Linked DNA regions of Homo sapiens. The protein of the gene in region 1 interacts with the protein of each later gene in a pairwise test. Each region holds a gene or a part of one and is shown on either strand. Other genes may lie near its edges.

Region 1 (7,023 bases):
AGCATTTCATAATTTTAGAATGGTGCCGGTACTTGTCTGGGAATAAATAGACTTTGCTATTTTTAAGTAGTGCTTTTCACTTAGAGTTTTAATCAGAAACAGGTGCTGAATTCTATTAAGTGCCTTTTTGATATCTATTGATGTAATTATGAATTTTTCTTTAATTTGTTAATGTAGTGAATTATGTTGGATTTCTTAATAATGAAACATCCTTGCATTACTGGAATAAACCTTATCTTAGGCACAGGATATGTTTTGATATACTGTTGGATTCTATATGATAATGTTTTACAAATAAATTTTACGTTTCTATATTATTTTCTTTCTTTTTGGTAGTGTCAGGCTTTGTGTTAGGGGTGTGTGGACTTTGTAAAATGAATTGGTGGAAGTTCTTCTTTTTATTATTTTTATTTTATTTTATTTTATTTTAAGACAGTGTTTCACTCCATCACCCAGGCTGAAGTGCAGTGGCACAATCTTGGCTCACTGCAAGCTCCACTTCCTGGGTTCAAGCAATTCTCGTGCCTCAGCCTCTCTTCTTTTTAAATGGTGTGGAGTAGTTTAATAACATGGAAGTTAACAGTTATAGAGCCAATAATCCCAGCATTTTGGGAGGCAGAGGTGAGCAGATCACTTGAGCCCAGTAGTTCGAGACCAACTTGAGCAACATGGTGAAACCCTGTCTCTATGAAAAATACAAAAAATTAACTGGGCATGGTGGTATGCACCTGTAGTCCCAGCTACCTGGGAGGCTGAGGTGGGAGAATCACCTGTGCCCGGGAAGTCCAGGCAGCAGTGAGCTGTGATAGCGCTGCTGCATTCCAGCCTGGGTGACAGTGAGATCCTGTCTCCAAAAAAAAGGAAAATAAAAGAAAAAACAGTTATAGAGAGAACTCTGTGGGGGCTCTGTTCCAATTTTAAATGAGATGCTGAATTAGATAAGACATGAACTTACTGTATACATTTAAAGAAGTCTTCCAAGTTCAGCCACAATTTGCCTTAGAAACCAGAGGCTAAAATTATCTCCTCTTACCATTTAGAAACCAGAATGAATCTTCTCTCAAGACTTTTTTATTTTTTATTTATTTTTTATTTTTTAAGATGAAGTATTGCTACAGTGCCAAGGCTGGCCCCAAACTCCTGGGCTAAAGTGATCTTCCCACCTATGCCTCCTGAGTTGCTAGGGCTACAGACACACACCACCAGGTCTGGCTTCTCAAGACTTTTAAACAAATACTTGCCCAGTGACTAATAGGAGATCTGGTTAACATAAAGAAGGAAGCTGCTTAGTAGGCACAGAAAAAAACTGGAGGCAAAGTCTGGCCTGTTGATTCATACTTGCTAAGATTTAATGAAATAATGCATGTTTGTTTAGGTCCTAGACTACTTTAAAACAACCTAAAAAAGATATTTCCCTGATCCAGAATTTGTAGATACGAGTAGAGGTAAGGTGTTCACACAACTTCAAATATTCATTACTAGGGAGTTGCTTACATTTTCATATTTTTCTAGTTATAATTTCTACTTTTAGCAGATTCTAACATTTAGATCTTTTGGTATGAATAGGTCAAAACAAGTCACCATTAACTGACAGGAAGCACAGAATTCTCAATTTAGTTTTGGCAAAGACATTATTTTATAAATATGAGTTTTTAAATGATTCTTATGAAGAAACTAGCACCAAAGTGAATGCACTCTGCAAATAACTCCCAGCTTCTCTGAATTTCAAAAGCAGCCACTAAATATTATTAGCAAATCAATTTAGCTGAAAGCGATGAATTACAGAAGTAAATCTTTAGGTACAAAGTAGACAGCTGACACACATGTAGCATATACACACTAGTGATCTGCCTCAAAGGGAAATGCTTATTAATACCCATAATCTATTGTCACTGTGTCAAATTCTTACACATCATAGTCCGTGATTTCACTACTCTGTAGCAGCAATAAAGTGTTAAAAGGCCCATCAGTATGATGACACACATTCCAGTAGTAAATCCAGCCTGTTTAAAAATAAAAGTATAAAACAGCATATATCATCATGTAAGCATAAATTCATATGCAATTATTTTACCCTAAACAATCATGATAAAAACTTGACAACTCATGAAAAACTAAATATAACCATCTATTTTCTTTAATGAATTTTATGTAGATTTATTAAAACCTCTGTTATAAAACTTACAATATAAAGAGAAAAACATTTAGGCAAAAAGTGTGCTGAAAAATTAGTATTACCTGTTTTATGCCCCAAGGAATGCTTAGTATAGATGTTCCCATCATGGTATTCCAAATCATAAAACTGAAAACACAGAGTAATAGCAGTAAAAAAATGGAGTTTCACTCTTCAAACATTTTAATTGAGACAAAAATTTAAAAAACCAGTAATTTTCATCCATATACAGTTTAAGTCATGCTCCAAAAAGCAGTTTCACTCACATGGTTACTAAACTGGTGTTTTTACCGTATCCTTCAGTGTAACTTTGAAGTTTATAAGCAGAGCCCAATGGACTATACACATAGCACTCTTCTGGAGCTGGAACTACATGGTCTGGGGCAATCTGGTAAAAAGGAAACATAGATAAATTTCAGAACCAGGAAATGCAAAATAGGATATTTGTTACACATCAGAACACCTGACTCTAGACACCTTTTTTTTTCTTTTGAACGGAGTCTCGCCCTGTCGCCCAGGCTGGAGTGCAGTGACGCGATCTCGGCTCACTGCAAGCGCCGCCTCCTGGGTTCACGCCATTCTCCTGCCTCAGCCTCCCGAGTAGCTGGGACTACAGGTGCCCACCACCACGCCTGGCTAATTTTTTGTATTTTTTTGTAGAGACGGGGTTTCACCATGTTAGCCAGGATGGTCTCGATCTCCTGACCATGTCATGATCCACCCGCCTCGGCCTCCCAAAGTGCTGGGATTACAGGCGTAAGCCACCACGCCTGGCCCTCTAGACACATTTTAACTATCATAAACAAGTACTATGAATCTCTGATTAGTGAATTAAAAAATGACTTTTCAAATATAGAAAAACTAACTAAAAAAGCAAGTTTTAAAAACCCAAAATAATTTTGGAATTTTCAGAAAACGAGTGTGGATGCAAGTACTATGCATCCCTGATTAGTGAATTTAAAAATTATTTTTCAAATATAGAAAATCTAACTAAAAAAGCAAGAGTTTAAAAATCCAAAATAGTTTTGGGATTTTCAGAAAACGAGTGTGGATGTATACACACATTCATTAAGAATGGTTATATCATTGTCAATTTTACATCACTGTTTATATATTTTGACTTCCTAGACTCATCTCAGTGTCAGTTAACAAATGGCATTCAACTTTGGTGCACATGCTGACTCTATTTCCAGGCAAACAATATACATGCAGGTATAAACTTGCTCATCTGGGATCTTGGAGGTTTGTTTCCAAGAGCAGAGCCTCTAGAAGGTCTCAACTAGACCCAGAGATACAGGATTATCTCTACTCCTCCAAGGGCTTAAGTAATTCCATTATGGAACTAAGACTTCGCCACAACTACTGATGTCAAGGCCTAAGGGGAAAAAGCCGAAAAAAAAATTGGGAAAAAAATTATCCTACCCAGAACATTTTGGAAATCCCTATTTTGGCCATACAAGAGGAAATCTTAATATTTATTTCACATAGCTATTGTTTAGGCTTAAATGAGATAGCTACATTCCAGTGATGCCCAATCACTGGTCCTTATTAAATGTTAATGAATGTTGGTTCTCTTCTTTTTATTAATAATACTAATTTCAAAATCCTGTTTTCTCCCAGAATGTTCTTATTTTCAGTTAAACTTGCAAGTTTCTGACTATCTCATATGCGGTAGTTTTTATAAACTACCAAATTACTTATATATATTTTTTATCCTAAAATAGTAATAGAGATTTTTAGAAGATCAAGGGTCAACAAACTCCGGCCCATAGGCCAAATCTGGTTTCAACCTGATTATTATACAGCCTCTTTCCTGAGAATGGTTTTTATAATTTTATAAATTTTATAATTTATAATTTTGATGATCATAAACAAAATGAAGAATATCATGTGACCTCAAAGTCTAAGACATTTAGTATCTGGCTCTTTGACTCCTGGTTTTGATCAATAAAAGAATAATGCTAAATAAGAAACTACTATATTTATGTGTACATATTTCAGTTTCCCATTCTTCTTTTTTTTTTTTTTTAAGAGATGGGGTCACATGGCCGGGCACAGTGGCTCACGCCTGTAATCCCAGCACTTTGGGAGCACAGTGGCTCACGCCTGTAATCCCAGCACCTCAGGGTGGGTGGGTCACGAGGTCAGGAGTTCAAGACCAGCCTGGCCAACATGGTGAAACCGTGTCTCTACTCAAAATACAAAAATGAGCCAGGTGTGGTGGCGCACACCTGTAACCCCAGCTACTCAGGAGGCTGAGGCAGGAGAATGGCTGGAACCCAGGAGGCAGAGGTTGTGGTGAGCCGAGATTGCGCCACTGCACTCCAGCCTGGGTGATAGAGCGACACTCCATCTCAAAAAAAAAGAGATGGGTCACACTCTTTTGCTCAGTCTGGGTGGGATGCAGTGGCACAATCACAGCTCACTGCATCCTCAAGGGATCCATCCTGGGCTCAAGGGATCCTCCTGTCTCAGCCTCTCAAGTAGCTGGAACTATAGGTGCGAGCCATCATGCTTGGCTAATTAAAAAAATTTTTTTTTGTAGAGACAGGGTTTCACCATCTTCTCCAGGCTGGTCTTGAACCCCTGGGCTCAAGTGATCCTCTTGCCTTGGCCTCCCAAAATGCTGAGATTACAGGAGTGAGTCACTGTGCTTGGCCAGTTTCCCATTCTTGTAGAAAATTTCTAAAAAAATATTTCCCTTACAGCTTCAAAGTTAAAATTGTCCACACTAAGCAGAACATGTTATTATTTGCTATTAGTCAATGGCCTAACTTGCCATTTCAAAAGTAATTTATCCTCCTCAGAGATTTGGGGAATGGGGATCAGGAGAATTTAATCCAAAAAAATCTCCAGGTTGTTGTCAACATAGAAACATTGTTTCAAATTTAGATAAGAATGAACTGGCCTGAGATGTAGGATGTGTGTTAATTACTATCTTTGACTTTGCATGATGCTGTCCTTGAAATACAGTCAGAAAGAAGTTCAATCACTGGGAGGTGCCCTGGCTTATATTGTTCACTGTTCATTTCAACTGAATTTTAGACTATTAGTAATGTTTTGTCTCTTACCAGTGCCTTGTCTGCAGGAGTGGTGAGCCGGCTGTAGTAATGAATTCTCTTGTTCATGGCAGAGGCATGGTCACTAACCCTCTGAATGACATGATTCACATTCACGATGTTTGTGGGCTCTATACAGAAAGGCCTACAAAGGGAATATACACTTGACAAAAAGTGTTCAGCCAAAAATTCTGGAAGTCAGCCTTTGAAGAAAATAACTTCTTATCCTCCATTAGTAATGGGATGCACAAAGGCAAGGCATTGACTTCTCACTTTTGGTGCAAACAGAAAATGTTACAAAAGAAGTATTATCCTATCCACAGAATAAAGCTTTTGTCTCATAACACTTTTACTTTAAGCACACTTTTTTTGTAATCTTCAGGAATTTAGCAACCGAGAAGACAAAACAGAAAGAACTTAAAACAGTTATTAAAAAGAAATACAGCAGCTATCAATTTCCAACAATGAAACTTAAGACAGCTTTGAATAGTCTCTCAAAAAAGCTTTTGGCACTAAATCAGAGAAATTATGGACTAAAATGTCCCTCTCCTGAAGAGTCTCTACTCCTTCCTTATGGGCCCAAGTTATTTCCTATGATAAACAGAATTCTTATTCCTTGGTTCATGTATTAAGGATTAGTGACCTCAACTATCAGATCCCTTATGAGACTTATCCAACTCAGTATAAAATGGAACATCATGACAATGGAGATATTTTGCCTCATTCTACTTTTTGCGGATTTTAGTAACATACCCTTTTATTTATATACATGCTTCCTTTCCACGTCTGCATCCTAATCAACTGCAGATTTTGGTGTTCAATCATCCTTTTCAGTCATCAACCTCTTCAGTTCCTTTCTGAAACTCCCTCATTTTCTTCTGAAGTTTCCAGTAATATACTATCCAAAATGAAAAGACCAGGCAGAGTTTTATCAAAAGACTGTATCCCTCTGCTGATTCTTAGGCTCCTTGAAATCATAAGTGACACTGTGCCCCAAATTGCACATAATTTGCCATTTCAGGCACAGATCCAAAGAAAGAAGAAAAAAAATCCAGATTTATCATTGGTTCCACTAACTCCTCTATACTTATGGTTCTGAAAGGAACTTAAAATGTAGTAACATATGGTAACCATTTCTGGAGATACTGTTAATCTAATCTTTTTTTTTTTTTTTTTTTTGAGACAGAGTCTCACTCTATCGCCTAGGCTGGAGTGCAGTGGTGCGATCTCGGCTCACTGCAACCTCCACCTCCTGAGTTCAAGCAATTTTCTGGCCTCAGCCTCCAGAGTAGCTGGGACTACAGGTGTGCACCACCATGCCTGACTAATTTTTGTATTTTTAGTAGAGACAGGATTTCACCATGTTGGCCAGGCTGGTCTCCAACTCCTGACCTCAGGTGATCCACCTGCCTTGGCCTCCCAAAGAGTTGGGATTACAGGCATAAGCTACCTCACCCAGCCGTTAATCTAATCTTGTGGGAAGTACTTGAAAAGCCAAGTGACTGAACATTTAATTTCTGCTATTTTTCTTATTAATTCTGTGATATTTGAGAAATGGTAGCAGAGGTGTTAAACTTAGTTTTATCTCTCTAGTTAGCATACAGAATCTTTGAATCTTTTACTATTTGTTCTCTACCGCAAAACCTAAATATGCTGGGTACTATATAGGTCAACTCAATGAATATGTAAATAGAGCACTTATAGAGCAAATATGTGGATATAGGGATCAATATGACATATTATATATACTAGTGCTGTGGTTTGAATATGTCCCCCAAAGTTTATGTGTTG
Region 2 (6,951 bases), on another chromosome or scaffold:
CCACAAATCACTACATAAATAATTATGTAATTAACAGATGCACACTGTCATCAGTAACCAGCCACATCATTTCTTTCAAAGTATGTTGATGGTTGGTCACTGTGCATCTGTTATGCAGCTCATGCAGAGATAGCAAAGCATGTAGTTTTGTACCTCCTTGTCTCCCAATGATAAAGTATGTGACATTTAGAAAAAGAGATAATAAAAAGAGGAAACTGGCCAACAAAGACGAAATACAGCAAAGAAATGAAAAGTAATAATGCTGAAATTTCAAATAGAAATGCTGAATTTCAAATAGAAAGTAAAGAATTATAGAAGAAACAGATGACCAAGGGAATGCTGACACTATCGCTCTAGATACACAGAGAACTCAGTGAAGGCAAACTTATTGACATAAATGAGGAAAGCGGTTGTGACGAAAATTTTCCAGAGGACGTGAGGCTGGCAAAAAATATTCATATTAAAGGAAATCTCAGAGATACTTCACAACATGGAAAATACAGACAAAATGCTTCATAAAATTAACATATGGCATATAGAATTTATTCAATAACAAATTAAAAATTTCTTACCTTGGTAACTTTTTATACAAGAATCGCTTTAGGTCCTGAAAGAGAGCATTAAAAAATAATGTTGTAATAATAGGCCTTCCACTGTTTTCTAGATCCTGTCCTATCCAAATTTTAAGGAACTTCAGTTATCATTCATAACCTTTCTTGCTGTGTTTTATCTTTCTCTGTCTGATTTGGATGTTTACTAGTCACGCAACTTGGAGTAAGTTAACCAACCTTTTTTCGCTAAGCTTATTTCATTATTTGTTGAATAGGGCTAATATAGAACCTACATCATAAAAGTGTTGTTAAAAGTTTATTGAGAAGATGCATGGATTAGCATACCTAGAAATGGGAAACACATTTTAGCCATAAAATTACATCATAATTTTCATACTAGTGTTTTACATCCTGTTGCTATTGTGTTCACTTGAGAAGACGTTATAAACACCTTTCCATGTTCAAAGATAGACTTTCCACCATCATCTTAATGGTCTTGGGTAAGGTGATATGACCTCTGTAAGACTGTTGTCTCACGTGACTATCACATTATAAAAATATGCCTTCCATTGTTTCATTATTTGTTGAACTCACCTACTCAACAAATAATGAAACAGTGTAAGGCATATTATTATAACGTAATTTTTAAAATATTTTGTTTAAGGACCTAAAATAAATTCTATATGACTATGTGAGGCAACATTTTTTTTTTTTTTTGAGACGGAGTTTCGCTCTTGTTGTCCAGGCTGGAGTGCAATGGCGCGATCTCGGCTCACTGCGACCTCTGCCTCCCAGGTTCAAACGATTCTCCTGCCTCAACCTCCCGAGTAGCTGGGATTACAAGCACCTGCCACCATGCCCAGCTAATTTTTTGTATTTTTAGAAAAGACAACGTTTTACCATGTTGGCCAGGCTGGTCTCGAACTCCTGACCTCAGGTGATCCACCCGCCTTGGCCTCCCAAAGTGCTGGGATTACAGACGTGAGCCACCGCGCCCAGCCCAGTGTTACAGAATATAAAATAAATGACAATGTGTGTCAAGTGTTTAACACGAAACACAGTTAAGACTAAAGAAGTAGAAGACTATTTTATTTTTCTAAGCTGGGGCTCACTGCAACTTCCAACTTCTGGGCTCAAGCAATCGTCTCGCCTCACTTCCAGCATAGCTGTGACTACAGAGGTATCAATGCGCCTGGCTGATTTTTAAATTTCTTTTTGTAGAACGGGGTCTTGCTATGTTGCCCAGGCTGATCTTGAACTCCCGGCCTCAAGTGATCCTTCCATCTCGGCCTCCCAAAGTGCTGAGATTACAGACTAAGCAACCGCATTGGCCAGAAGACTATCTTATTTTGTCTCATTACACTCTCTTATCCCAGGAATTTCACTGACAATTTAGGTATCAATTTTGACCTCACATGGATTAATCAGGTATCTCTTGTTTTGAGCATCCAGCACTTACTATTCTCCAAACCCGACTGATCATTTTATCCTCCTACACACACACACACACACGTTACCATGTTTCTAAAGAGGCATGGGTTAGAAATCATCGTAAATTGCTACAATAAACCAAATGAGATATTGTTATCACTTACTGGAAAAAAGTATTGTGGGTACATGTCCTACTGACCAAATTCTGACAGGAAAAGCAGCAAACCATCATTCAGAATTTCAAATGGTAAATATACAGAGCCTCTCTTATGCCCCAGCTGGACTGGGGAGTAGGGAGAACCTAATTTTCTCAGTCTCAAGCACCTTAGTGTCCTACACCCCCATTCGAGGCAGAAACTCAGGATCCTGCAAATTCATTCATATTAGTCTCCCACTTCAGATATCAGAGAAAATAATTAACTGGGATGGGTGGGGCTGGGAGGATCAAAACAAATTTCTGTTTGGGAAGTTCTACCTCTCCCCGCTCAGTATGCCCCTCAAAATTCCCCACTCTCCCCTTCCTCTTATGTAGGGGTGTCACTCACATCCGCCATGATGAACCCCCTTCTCTCGCAGGATCAATCTCCACGCCTGGAAGAGAAACTCCCGGTGACTCTTCCCTCTTTGGCTTCCTCGTCCTCCCCACCCACAACTTAATACGCGAGATCAGCCCTGGTCAGAACCAGGTAAAACCCCCGCGGTTCTAGGGCTTGGCCCAGCGAGCCCAGTGGGAGTCGGAGTGCCCCAGCACCCCCACAGGTACTCAGCTGGCACACCTTACCTCAGCCCACCCCATCCCTGCCCCTCCACCCCAAAGAGCTAGGCCCAAAGAAAAGAAGAGAGGGTCCTCTCCTTCTGTTTAATCTCACCACCCGCGCCACCTGCGGGACTAGGCCTCAAAACCAGGCAAAGTAGCGCCAGTTACCTGGGGTTTCTGGGCTGCCTGGTTCTCTCCGCTGTCACTTCAGGGACAGCTTTAAAGACAGGTTCCTCCTCAAGCCACCGTCACATGATTCATGACCTCGTCTGCGCTCCAGGAAGCACTTTCTAAGCCGCCGTCGCCCTACGATACGGGATTTCCGGAGGGGCCCGGCGGAAGCTGCGAGGGCGCGTCCGGCGGCCGCGCCCCTCCCCTCCCCCCCGCCCCGCACGCGCCCCGCCCCTCCCCCGCCCACCGCGGGCCGCGTCTTGCGCCTGCGCCTTGTGTCACGGGCCGAAGGAAGTCAGCTGTGGGGTAGATTTGTACGAGATCGCTGGACCCTAAGGAACCCAGAAAATGCAAGCAAGGTTATGTGTTACAAGACATTCTTGTGCAGAGAGGGTGTATAAATGTCATTAGTTTTGCAGGGTCTGTTATCTTAAAACCTTTTCTTGTAGATGAAGAAATTTGAGGGGATGGTGTGATGAGCTGAAGAGCAAGCACCAGATTGCCTGTGATTGGAAGTACCAGGTCCACAGGTTTCTGACCTGTTTCCTAGGCTCTTGTGACTTCCCCATGGGTGCTCTTTACTGAAGGCCTTACCTAGATTGAATGGGGAGGAGCCATGGGTTTTCTGGAGCACTTCAAGCGTCTACTTTTAACATGCAGACACTGATTACGGGCACCTTCTATGTTCCCTTTTACATCAGAATTTTTAAAAATTAGTAAGGTCTCATGTAATAAATAATAATTGAAAAAAATAAAAGGCTTTCCGGGTGCGGTGGCTGACGCCTGTAGTCGCAGCACTTTGGGAGTCCGAGGCGGGACGATCCTTTGAGCCCAGGAGTTCCACAGCAGCCTGGCAAGATAGGACCCCATCTCTACAAATAATAATAATAATTAAGAATTATCCGAACGTGGCGTGCACCAGGTACTCGGGAGGCTGAGGCAGGAGGATCCCTTGAGCCCAGGGTTTGAGGCTGCATCGAGTGGTGATCGCCCCACTGAACTCCAGCTTGTGTGACAGAGCGAGACCCTCAAAAGAAAAGCTTCTTTAGAAATCGCATCCTCTTTCAGCTACCACACTGTTTTTCCTCTACTCCCTTTCATAGCCAAATTTTCAGAAAACTTTAGCCTGGTTTTCAATTGCTGCTTCCATATGTCACAAATCTAATCAGAGTTCTGTTGATTCTACCTCCTATCTTTGAAAACTATTCACCTATCTATATTCCTACCCTACTCCAAGCCATGATCATCTCTCTTTTGACAACAACCTCCTATTCTTCTTACATTCTCTTTTGCCCTCCAGTCTCCACACAGCAACAAAAATGATGTTCTAAAGACCCAAATCACATCATTTAACTCCTTCCTTGAAAATCAAGTTTATTGACTTAGGATAAAGTTCAATATCAGCATCATGGTTTATATATCATTCTTATGGGGATCTGGCCCCTATCTTAATTCTCTCACCTACCCTGGATTCCTTATGCTATGATCATACAAGTTTGTTTTCACTTCCATAAAGATTTTTATCACTTTACCAACTTAGCACGTTCTGCCTGAGATATTTCTCTAGCATACCTTAATCCTACTAATCTCATCTTTTGCATTTTGGCTTAAACTCACTCTCAGAGAAGCCTTCCCTGACCCTCACTGAATAGTTTAGGTCTTCTAGATAAATGCTTTCATTGTACCCTGTAATTTTCTTTGTAGAATTTATCATAATTATAATTATTTACTTGATATTTATTTTCTTTGCTAGATGTAAACTCTTTAAGGTTTTTGTCTTTCTTATTCAGTGATTAATTCCCAGCACCCAGCTCACTGCCTGGGATATAGCAAGCATTGACATACTTGTTGAATAGTTGAATGAATGAAAGAGTGGCCATATTGAGTATAAAACATGATAAAAACAAACATTTTACAGTGAGAACAGACCTTTTTATTAATATATTGAGATAAACTACAGAGACTGAAAGACAAAAATTCATATTTCATTCAGAACATTCATTAAAAATCAAATGCATTTGAGTTCTCACAGAAAATTTTATGTAAGTCTGATATAACATTAAATATTTTACAAATCAGACATTTCATTTTGAAATCTAATTTTTAATCCTGAATGCATTATAGACAAAGTAAGCTCTCCTTTACCAATTTCATTTAACTTATACAAGGCTTCCATTATAATTCCATCAAACCTTAAAAATTACCTGCAGCTTTTAAAAACACATAAAGTAAATGGAAAGAAAGTCTTATGTAGCAATCCAAAAACTAAAACTAGAAATTGGCAAGAAGCATTTCTTAATACAGATAAACTGCAAAATATCATTTATGTGTGTTTCTTCTCATTGGTTTAATCATCCTATTAAAAATAATTTTTTGAAAGTAATAATTACAATACTCCAATGTCACTGAAAATCTCTATGATTTTAATGGTGTCCTTAAATGGCAAAGTAGAATATCAGACTGAAATGTACAGAGTGTTGTGCTGAAGTGAATGAGACTTGCCATGCCAGGTGTCATCTGCTATGCAGTTACAAGACATCTTGGCAACTAGTCATCCCAGTTTTTACTAACTTACTAAACAAGGACATTTCAAGAAATACTTCTTACCCCTATGTATTTCCAGATGGCTGGATATAGAAAGATATAATTATGTTTGAAGCATGGGCCTTATAATAGGAATCTCTCCATTAAAATATGAAAAAGAGCAACAAATAATTCACACCAATGAAATTGTGTTGACTGATTTTCAAAGTCAGACATAAAAATATCCACTGCTAATGGAAGCCCTGCTCTGTGCAAACATAGTGTGGTATATATTAAACAATCACACATTTGAGGTAATTAGCTGGGAAAAAAAAAAAAAAATATATATATATATATATACACCTATACATAGACACATCCACAGAATATTCACAAATCTATTGGCCCCAACACCAGCAGATAGTCATATTAAATGAAAAATATCACATACCAACAGGAAAAAGTTACACATAGGGAATATACAAAAAATATGGTGCTATAATCCTTAATATAAGGAGTATGTTTTGAATTAATGTTTTGAGGAAAAGTGTTTCCATTTATATGAAAGTATCTATTTAATAGTAATAAAACCAAAAAGGAAGCTGAATTCTAGGACTGTTTTACCTGCCAAATAATTGAAGGGATGAGCAAGAATTCCTTGAAAAGCCTCATTCTATCCTTTTTCTTTGTAACTAAAAATTAGAATTTAAAATGTTGGAAATTATTGCCAGACAAGTTTCTTTTCATTGGTTTATAGGGAATTTTATGGATTTTAACTAGGCAATGGTCCAATGTGGTCAACAGACATGGTTTTTCAGCTGTTGAATGAAAATTAAAATAAAGATTTATTGTTGATTTTCATTAGTTTTTCTGTTCAGATAAGAAAAAAGATTATGAATTCCCTTTCAGTTTGCTTCACTCATTATGAAGATGGATAGTAATAGGATAGTACTGAACCCAAGCTTCACATGGGGAAGCTCAAGAAATGTACAAATTCTCTTCTTAACCATTTGGTCCTCTGATATAAAACTTGCTTAACTGGCAAGATGGCTCACTTGGTCCTCAAGCCAACATCAAGAAATATTTAGCTGTCTTAACACAGGTGGGAGACTTTTTTTTAATGAAATACATAGGAATCCATTAAGTAACATTAGCATGTCATGTGTTAAATAGCTTCATTTAAAAATGTTACAGATCAACAGAAGGGAAATCAAAAACTTATTTTTCTCAGTAACTACTTTACATACTAGTGTAATTAAAGGTTTAACTGGAAGAAAAATTCAGCATAAAAGTATAATTAAAGTAAAAAGCTGGTATTCCACATTCCTGTTCCTATGAACACCTGAGCTGGCACAAAAGCTGAGTAGTTTAATGCATTGGCATATATATGCCTTAAGGACTGTACTTTTCTCTACCAAATCTTTGTAAATCATAAACAAGCATGTAATGATTATGAAACAAATACTTATTTAGGTGTTCAAATGTAATCTGTTTACAAAATATATTATTTTCACTTAT

What was found. The genes of interacting proteins can lie anywhere in the genome.
Region 2: the proteins of SLC38A9 (region 1) and LAMTOR3 interact in binary tests that used the Homo sapiens proteins (3 or more experiments, as listed by UniProt).

The regions. Positions count from the first base shown.
Region 1 is NC_000005.10:55,667,319-55,674,341, forward strand, and holds part of SLC38A9 (neutral amino acid transporter 9), read right to left. Parts: intron 5,378-7,023; coding exon 5,245-5,377; intron 2,562-5,244; coding exon 2,440-2,561; intron 2,303-2,439; coding exon 2,239-2,302; intron 2,004-2,238; coding exon 1,910-2,003; intron 1-1,909.
Region 2 is NC_000004.12:99,891,428-99,898,378, forward strand, and holds the start of LAMTOR3 (ragulator complex protein LAMTOR3), read right to left. Parts: upstream 3,001-6,951; 5' UTR 2,908-3,000; intron 2,574-2,907; 5' UTR 2,537-2,573; coding exon 2,528-2,536; intron 608-2,527; coding exon 573-607; intron 1-572. UniProt on the Homo sapiens protein: As part of the Ragulator complex it is involved in amino acid sensing and activation of mTORC1, a signaling complex promoting cell growth in response to growth factors, energy levels, and amino acids.